Linked DNA regions of Homo sapiens: region 1 is linked to region 2. A link means that fine-mapping ties the variant in region 2 to the plasma level of a protein whose gene starts in the linked region. Region 2 holds a variant in brackets. A gene starts in the other region. All regions are shown on their reverse strands.

What was found. PIP is the chance, under the fine-mapping model, that this variant and not a neighbour inherited with it causes the effect. The UK Biobank Pharma Proteomics Project read protein levels with antibody pairs (Olink). The fine-mapping took linkage between variants from a reference panel, not from the people measured, so its PIPs are less certain.
Region 1: it holds the start of KIF22, and the variant in region 2 is fine-mapped to the plasma level of the KIF22 protein (UK Biobank, PIP above 0.99).

Annotation. Positions count from the first base shown.
Region 1 is chr16:29,788,355-29,792,867 of GRCh38, reverse strand. KIF22 (kinesin family member 22) reads right to left here and starts at 2,117. Exons shown (of 14, transcript NM_007317.3): 1 at 2,039-2,117. The coding sequence starts at 2,108. RefSeq lists an enhancer at 2,307-2,706.
Region 2 is chr14:23,375,110-23,379,109 of GRCh38, reverse strand. It overlaps IL25 (interleukin 25), which reads right to left. Exons shown (of 3, transcript NM_172314.2): 3 at 2,707-3,485. The coding sequence ends at 3,230. It overlaps CMTM5 (CKLF like MARVEL transmembrane domain containing 5), which reads right to left and starts at 2,064. Exons shown (of 6, transcript NM_001288746.2): 1 at 1,733-2,064; 2 at 609-761; 3 at 241-441; 4 at 1-79. The coding sequence starts at 1,858. The variant G/A (reference allele first, on the strand shown) is at 1,837.

The DNA.
Region 1 (4,513 bases), not on the chromosome of region 2:
ATTCCCTCTGTTTCCTTCCTTGCAGTGTAAGTTACCAGTCATGATGAATTTCCTTCACTTCCTACAAAACTCCAAGTTCTCTTGCACCTTTGGATTTTTGTCCACGTTAATCTCTCTCCCTAGAATATCTGCATTGCTCCCCACCCCACCCTGGAGTGACTAAGGTAAACACATTTTAACTCCTCTTAAAAAACAAAACCAAAAACCCTTTCCTGGTAGACACTAAGGCTTTATCAGGTGCAACCACAGCTCATGTTAGCCCCTCCATAAGCATTTGTCACACCCCACTATTGCGTGTTTGTCACTTTCTCCACCTGACTGCCAACTGTGAGAACAAGTTTTATCCTGCTCACCTTTCTAACCCCAACACCTGGCGCAGAGTAGGCCCTCAAGAAGTATTTGCTGAAAAAAATTAAGATTTAGTGAATAAACTACTAATCACTGGCTTGTTCATTTCCATCATGAAAATGGCTCACGGCCATTCCTGCCCCAGGGCTCACAGTCCAGGGTAGGAGGGAAGAGGGGAGGGCCACATGTAAACAATTATTTACTGCACAAGAGTCTAGCCCTTTCATGATAAAAGCAACCTTGAGCTTGGACCAGGCTAGCAATTATTAATTTTCCCTTCTTTCACAATTCCTAAATTTCATTCACTCTTCTCCCTTTTATTGATGAGGAAATTGAGCTAAGAGAGCATCTTACATCATAAATAAGAAAACACTTGCTGTTCTTGTCTTCTTAGTCAAGGCCTGGCAAACTCCTATCCAACCTTTGAAACCCATCTCAAGTATCATTCACTCCCTTAATGAAGTCCTCCCAGAATACTCAAGGGCTTACTTCAGATTCCACACCCTCAGTTTATACACATCTCTCATTGTGTTTCGTATTACATCTACGTATGTGACACTCTATTGAAACAGACTGTAAATTCCTCGAGGAAGGGACATTATTCATTCAGGCATTTTCATATCTACCATGCACCGGACACAGTGCATCTTCGAAGGGTAAGGGGAGACTGTGCTCAGCCAGCAGGGATAACATGTACTTGGGCATAATGGTTAAGAGCAGAGGTTCTACACTCAGACTCCTTGAGAGCGAATTCAAGCCCCAATATTTACTAGTTGTGTTAACTCTGAACAAACTAACCTCAGTTTCCTGTGTAAAACAAAGACAGTAATAGTAACAACCTGATAGCATTGTGTGGACAATAAATGGTTCACCACCATAAAATGCCTACAACTGTGCCTGGCACATAGCAAGAGCTCTACATGTGTTAGGCATTCTCCTAAATGTCTGTTTCCCCACGAGGCTAACGAGGGCTCCAGTGAATTACTATGGCGCTCACCATCATCACTAACGAGGATTAAGTCTCCGGGTTAGAGAGGCACATGTAAACAAATACTCACATACAAGATTTTGGGTGTCCTAACAGCCTTTCCAACCCTAAAATAGCATTCACTTCCATGCTAGAGTGAAAGGAAATTTTAGTCTTTTATTTCGTTTTCCTGTAATCGCAGAGCATCTTACGCTGCCAACTCAAACCCAGCAGCAGCCGGGTCTGTTCCTCAGCCCGTCCTCTTGCATCTCTCAGGGATGTCTCTGCACCCAAACACCATGTCCCACACAGAACCCTTCCCAATACACGCCTCCGGCTCCCTTCTTCTCGTCCTCGTGGCTAGAGCGTCCGCCACTCTTCTCTTGCTTATTCAGGTGATCTCCAGGGATGAGGCCATGACCCCCGTTTCACAGACGAAGAAACCGAAGCTCACAAAGAAAAAGTGCGCGGGGTTCAAGCCAAGAGCCTGGACCGGAGACCCGAGTCTACTGACCCAAGGGGAGAGCAGGAAACAGGGAGAAGGCAGGAGCCAGGCGGGGCGACCGGCTCGCGACCCCACACTCTCACCGTCCCCCTCTCCCCGCCCCTGCGCCATGGCCGCCTCTCCGCGACAACCCGCAGAGCCTGGACCACACTCCGACACATAACTCCCACTAAACTCCAGACGTCGGTACCCGCCTTGCCCAGGCCGGGCTCAAGTACCTGAGATCGCCGCCGCTGAAGCTGCCGCCATCTCGCGTCGCCTCTGCTGCGTCGAGCCGCCCGCGGCCATTCCACTCCCTCCTTGGGCCCGCCTCTCCCATTCGAATTCCCCGGTGCCCCGCCCCCTCTCCCAGGTTCCACCAATCAAGACTACGCGCCGCCGGAAGCTGCTGCGTGTGGGTCGCCACTATCCCGCCTTCCAGCGCTCGCCTCCGGGTCCCCAAGAAAAGGTTCCCCTGGTCAGGACGCATGCGCGCGCGTGGGCCGCGCAGCCGTTGATGTCTGGAAGCGCGCTGCGATACAAACCCCTACGCAGGGATGTTGGCGACGGTGGCCGCTGGGGGAGCTGCTCAGCGCCGCCCGGCACTGGGCTCCCTTTCCCTTTACTTTCTGCAGTTTCTTGCCTCCGTGGGTGGTTGGCGCGTCTGCGGAGCCAGGGTCGTTGTGTGGATCGTGGGACTGCAGCCCCAGCCAAAGGGCTATCACGTCTGGTCGGTTCTGTAGATCTGGGCCCCAGGGGCTGGACTCTGGGCAGTCACGTTGCAGTCGCTGCCTGCTGGGCCCAAGGCCACTGTAGGTCCCCTCGCGTCCGTGTCAGCCCAGGAGAGCAGCTTGGATGTTCCTGTCTTTATAACTTGGCACTCAGCACGTCGGCGAAGCGTGGAAAACGCTTAGTCTGTGATTCAGTCCCACTCACCCACGGTTCCGGTTCCCAGTCCTTAAGAGTACAGCAGTCCGTTGAGTAGCTCTCTGTCCTTTCTGAAGGGTTGGCTAGGGACGGTCATTCCACTTTTGAGCACCAGGTAGGTAGGGCCCAGGTTTAGACATTATGTTCCACCCTGTTGAACAACAAAACAAAACACGGGCCGGGCGCGGTGGCTCAGTCCTGTAATCCCAGCACTTTGGGAGGCTGAGGCGGGAGGCTCACCTGAGGTGAGGAGCTCGAGACCAGCCTGGCCAACATGGCGAAACCCCGTCTCTACTAAAAACACAAAAATTAGCCGGGGATGGTGGCACGCCTGTAGTCCTAGCTACTCGGGAGGCTGAGGCAGGAGAATCGCTTGAACCCGGGAGGTGTAGGTTGCAATGAGCCGAGATGGTGCCACCGCACTCCAGCCACGGCGCCAGAGTGAGACTCCGTCTCAAAACAAAAAACACAAATCTTAGATCAGTGTTTCTGAAACGTTTTGCCTTGGGATCCCACTACAGTTTTTAAAAATGAGGCCTCCAAAGATGTTTTGTGTATATGAGGGTTTTTGTTTTTTTGTTTTTGAGACGGGGTTTCACTTCCATCTCCCAGGCTAGAGTGCAGTGGCTCAATCTCGGTTCACTCCAACCTCTGCCTCTTGGGTTCAAGTGATTCTCCTGCCTCAGCCTCCCGAGTAGCTGGGATTACAGGTGTGCACCACCACGCTCAGCTAATTTTTGTATTTTTATGGAGACAGGGTTTCACCATGTTGGCCAGGCTGGTCTCAAACTCCTGACCTCAAGTGATCCACCCGCCTTGGCCTCCCAAAGTGCTGGGATTACAGGTGTGAACCACCAGGCCTGGCCGTATATACTGTGTGTGAAGTGAAACTAAATTAAAGTTGACATTAATGAATTTAAAAATTACAGTAAAAAACCCATAGACATAAAAAGGACATCTAAGTAGTGGTTGCCAGGGGATGGTGAGGGGCTGAGGAGCTGGCACTACAGCAATAGATATAACGAGTTTCTTTTGGGGGTGATGGAAATATTAAATATTTTGGAATGAAGTAGTGATGATGGCTGCGTAACGTAATAAACATACTAAAAACCAGAGAGGTGTGCACTTTTTTTTTTTGAGACATAGTCTCTCTCTGTTGCTCAGGCTGGAGTGCAGTGGCGCAATCTCAGCTCACCGTAACCTCCGCCTCCTGGGTTCAAGCAATTCTCCTGCCTCAGCCTCCCGAGTAGCTGGGATTACAGGCATGCACCACCGTGCATGGCTGATTTTGTGTTTTTAGTAGAGACGGGGTTTCTCCATGTTGGTCAGGCTGGTCTTGAACTCATGACCTCAGGTGATCCATCCGCCTCGGCCTCCCAAAGTGCTGGGATTACAGACGTGAGCTACCAAGCCCTGCCTAGACCTCCATCTCTTTTTTTTTTTGAGACGGAGTCTCGCTCTGTGGCCCAGGCCGGAGTGCAGTGGCGCCATCTCGGCTCACTGCAAGCTCCACCTCCCGGGTTCACGCCACTCTTCTGCCTCAGCCTCCCGAGTAGCTGGGACTACAGGCACCTGCCACCACGCCCGGCTAATTTTTTGTATTTTTAGTAGAGACGGGGTTTCACCGTGTTAGCCAGGATGGTCTTGATATCCTGACCTCGTGATCCACCCGCCTCGGCCTCCCAAAGTGCTGGGATTACAGGCGTGAGCCACTGTGCCTGGCCTACCTCCATCTCTTAAAAAATAAAATTAGCCAGGCATGGTGGCACACACCTATATTCCCAGCT
Region 2 (4,000 bases):
CAGCTCCGTCCCGGGAGGTCACAGCTGCAAAGGAGACCACCAGGAAGATGATGATGGCACTGACACAGCGCAGGAAGTCCTGGGGGCCAGGGGTGCAGGGTTAACAGGACCTCAGAAGGCAGGGGGCGTTACCCTGAAGTTTTCCAGGCTAGCCAGCAGCCCGACCCTGAGGGATTCTGAACCCCTCCATAGGATACCCCTCACACAATATGAAGCACATTCAAGAGACAGAGCGCTCACACTGCTACCCAGGGAGTGGAAGCAGATGAACCAGAGCAACCAGGACCAGAAGCCAGGCGCTGGGGCTGGAACCCAGGGGACAGCGGCTGGAGTATGCCAGCCCGGGGGGGTCAAGCCAGGCCAGGGCTGGGGCTGGACCTTTGCTGAGTGGGAGAGTAGATCTAGCGGATGTGGTCCTCCTGATTGCCCGTGGCCCTGCAGCTGTGAAATCAGTGTGAGTCAAAGCACACCTTTGAGTGCAGGGCATAGCATGGGACAAAGCCCAGCTGTGGTGTGGAAATGGAAAGAAGCTCGGGGAGGAAAGGAAAATGCATCATTTAGAGGAGAGGGAAGGGCCCCAAACTGGGCTAGGGGTCAGGGTTCCTCACCAGACAGGGCCAGTTAATTCGGTCGAAGCGCTGGTAGTACTGGGTGGCATAGAGGAAGAGGAAGGCAAGTGTGATGAAGAACTCCAGTAGCGCCGCGGCCATGTAGGCAGAGATGGAGGCCGTGAAGCAGATGAAGATGATGAGGGTCAGGGCCTGCAGGACCGAGCATGTGGAACATGCCAAGAAGGGGACACAGGCAGGGGCCAGGGCTTTGCCTTCCCCTCCTTGGAAGCTCCCCTAGGCTGGCACCTACTACCTGTCCTTGGAGGGGAGGAAGGACTCTGGCACATCTCCCTATCCCCTGGTGTCAGGAGCCACCGTTGCAGGGCATTTGCCGGTCAAGGGCAGTCTCCGGCCTCCCACTCTGCTCACCCAGCAACCCCAGCAGTCTGGCCAAGCCATATGGCTCCCAGGAGCACTATCCCACAGTAATTCATAGGTACAGTGTGAATGCCAGCCCCTGGAGTTGTGCCCACAGAGACCCGACTCCACAGGGACCAAGAGGAGCCCCCTGCCTCATAATGCTTTCCCCACCCCCAGATGCCTGAAAGCCCCCTGACAAGGACCAGAGCCTTTGATTCCATGCCAAGAGAGAAGGCAGATGCTGCCCAGTGGTTTCTGGGAGCCCCTTTAGCTCTGATGACCTAGGGTGGCATACGTGCAGAGGCCTTAACTCTACACTGTGGTCTTGCTAAGTAACCAGGGGAAGATCCTTTCCTGAGAAGAGATGTTTCTGGGCAGCAGACCACAGATAAAGTGCAGTTGCAGGAAGTCTGCCCTTTTTGATAGTTAGACTTCTTGGACGTGCTGAGAAGTGGCCATGTTAGAGGCTGTCATTGCCCCTGTCCCATCCCTATGTCTCAAGCTTCCTCAATGTCCCAAAAAGTCACCCTGTCTAACTGCAGTCCTTCCTGCTGCAACTGAAACCTGCTGTAAATGTCTCCGGGTGGAGAGGCAGCAAGAAGGCAGAGTAGGAGACGAAGAAGGGGCAGCTGCGGGCAGGAGAGGTGTCCAGAGGGCTTGGGGAAGGAGGCTACTGAAGGGTGAGCTGGGGGCTGGCATAAGGCTGGCCAGGAGCCGGGGGTCAGGGAGATGGAGGCACCAGGTTGGGAGGCAGCTGTTACCAGCTCGGTTTCCAGCAGGATGCCCTTGTGGGAGGTGAGGAAGGCCTTGTCCACCGCGAAGCCCTGGAGCTCTGCAACTACCCCCTCCTCAGGGTGCCGGTCCC[G/A]GCGATCTCGAGCACTGAGCATCTTCGTAGGGCCCACCAACACAGCCCCCTACTGCCAAAAGCCCAGCAAGAGAAACAGAAATCTGGCAGGATGGGGAAACAGACAGGAGCAAGAAGGCACTTCGAGAAACCTGAAAGTGAAGCAGGAGGCTTGCCCACAGGGCCCCGGGAGAGAAGGCAGGCGCTGGGGGCCTTGCCCAGATGGGCCCTCACCCAGCTGCCCAGAGTGCCTCTGCTGCTGCCTGCACCAGCCCCCTAGAGACCCATGGGGAGGGGCAGAGAGGAAGGAGGCTCTAATCCCTCCCCTTGCTTAGAGCCCAACCCAGCCTGGAATAGAGAAGGAAGGGGAGAGGAGGAGGTCCGAAAAGAAACTGGGAGGAGCTGGGATGTGAGTAGAGGAACAGGGGCAGGACTGGGAGCCCCCAGGGACCTAAGCCTGAAGACATTTGTGTCCCCCTTCTCTAACCTTAACCCTCTTGTTTGGCCGGTCCTTTCTCCCATTTCCTTTTAGGGAGGGTGTGAGCTGGAGCCCAGCCCAGGCAGCACCCCCAGGACCAAGCTGCAGCAGCCAGGACTGGAGGACAAAGGCGGATTGTTGGGGGACAAGGGGGCGCTCTGTGCCTGCTGCAATGCCTCAATGGGCCTCTGTCTCTCCAGCATGCCGGGAGCGCGGCCTAGCCCCCACCCTGGTGTTTGGGATGGGCCAGGGAGACAGAGATGGGAGAGGACGGGAGGGTGCAGCGGAAACTCTGGAGGGCGGAGAGAGCTGGCAGGGTGGACAGAGGTGAGGGCCAATGGTGGAAAGGAGAAGGGACAGGCTGGGAGACCGCGAGATGTTCAGGCACCACGGATGCCAAATACAGATTAGGCCATTTTTAAATAAAGATATTTATTTGGATAAATCTCTATACATTCAATAACAGCTTCCTCCTCAGAATCATCCATGTCAAAAGACTAGTAACTACACTAGAATGCACCCAAAGTAGATGCTCACTGAGTGATGAGTAAACAAACAAATAAAACCAGGGGCTCTTTCTTCTCCAGCAAGGGGGAAATATCTAGAAAGTGCCTGTGCTGGGCCAGGGTAGCAGGGGATGGGAAAAGAGGAAGAGACAGGAGTGGTGGCCTCCAGAAATGGGCAGAACTTTGAAAACCTTTCCTGAGAGAAAATGACAGGACACCAGCTTCCGGCGGCCCTAAGCAGCAGCTGCTCTTTTCAAAATGTGCAGAAGTGCAGGCTTTCCCCAAAGCCCCCCATCCTGTCCCGGGATCCTGCTGCTCCAGACAGCACTTCACAGGGGCCAAGCATCTGGGCATCCTGGCCCTTCATGGCAAGTGGTTGTACACCTGGCTCCAGGTTTCCCAAAAAGGGACCAGCCTCCAGCAGGTCCGGCTAGCCCATCACACGGGGCCGCACACACACACAAGCTAAGGAAACACGGTACAGCCTGCGCTCCAGGCAGTAGCCCTTGTGGGTGCCCTTCTCGCCATGGCATGGCCGCCGGTAGAAGACAGTCTGGTTGTGGTAGAGCAGCTCCGAGTTGCCCCGGGGGTCCATGTGGGAGCCTGTCTGTAGGCTGACGCAGTGCGGGCACAGGCAACGGGCGTGGTACAGGTCCTGGGGGAGCCGGTTCAAGTCTCTGTCCAACCTGTGGGGGCGGCACTTGTCAGGCCTTGGAAAGATGGGCCGGAAACAGAGAGGGTGGGGTGGCATGGGAGTGCCAGAAGAAGGAAATGGTCCGTCTGGGGCCTTGGCCTCTTGTCTCAGTTCTGAACCCACTTGCTGTGTAACTTTGAACAAGTCACCTCCCTCCTTTATTAAATTTTCCCCACTGTAAATGAGGGTAGCAGGTGACAGAGTGCTTTCCAACTGGTCCTGGGACCGTGAGGGAGGCAGGGGAGGGTGAGCAGGCTCCTGCCTTAGCCTCCATTGACCAGCACTGCTTCTATCTGACTCAGCATGAGGTTTCTTATTGTAATGATTACACTTTAGGTGTTTTTGTTTGTTTTTTGATTTTTTGTTTTTGTTTTTTTGAGACGGAGTACCCAAGCTGGAGTGCAGTGGCACGATCTTGGCTCAACTGCAACCTCTACCTCCTGGGTTCGAGCGATTCTCCTGATGCCCGCCACCATACCCAGCTAATTTTCATATTTTTAGTAGAGA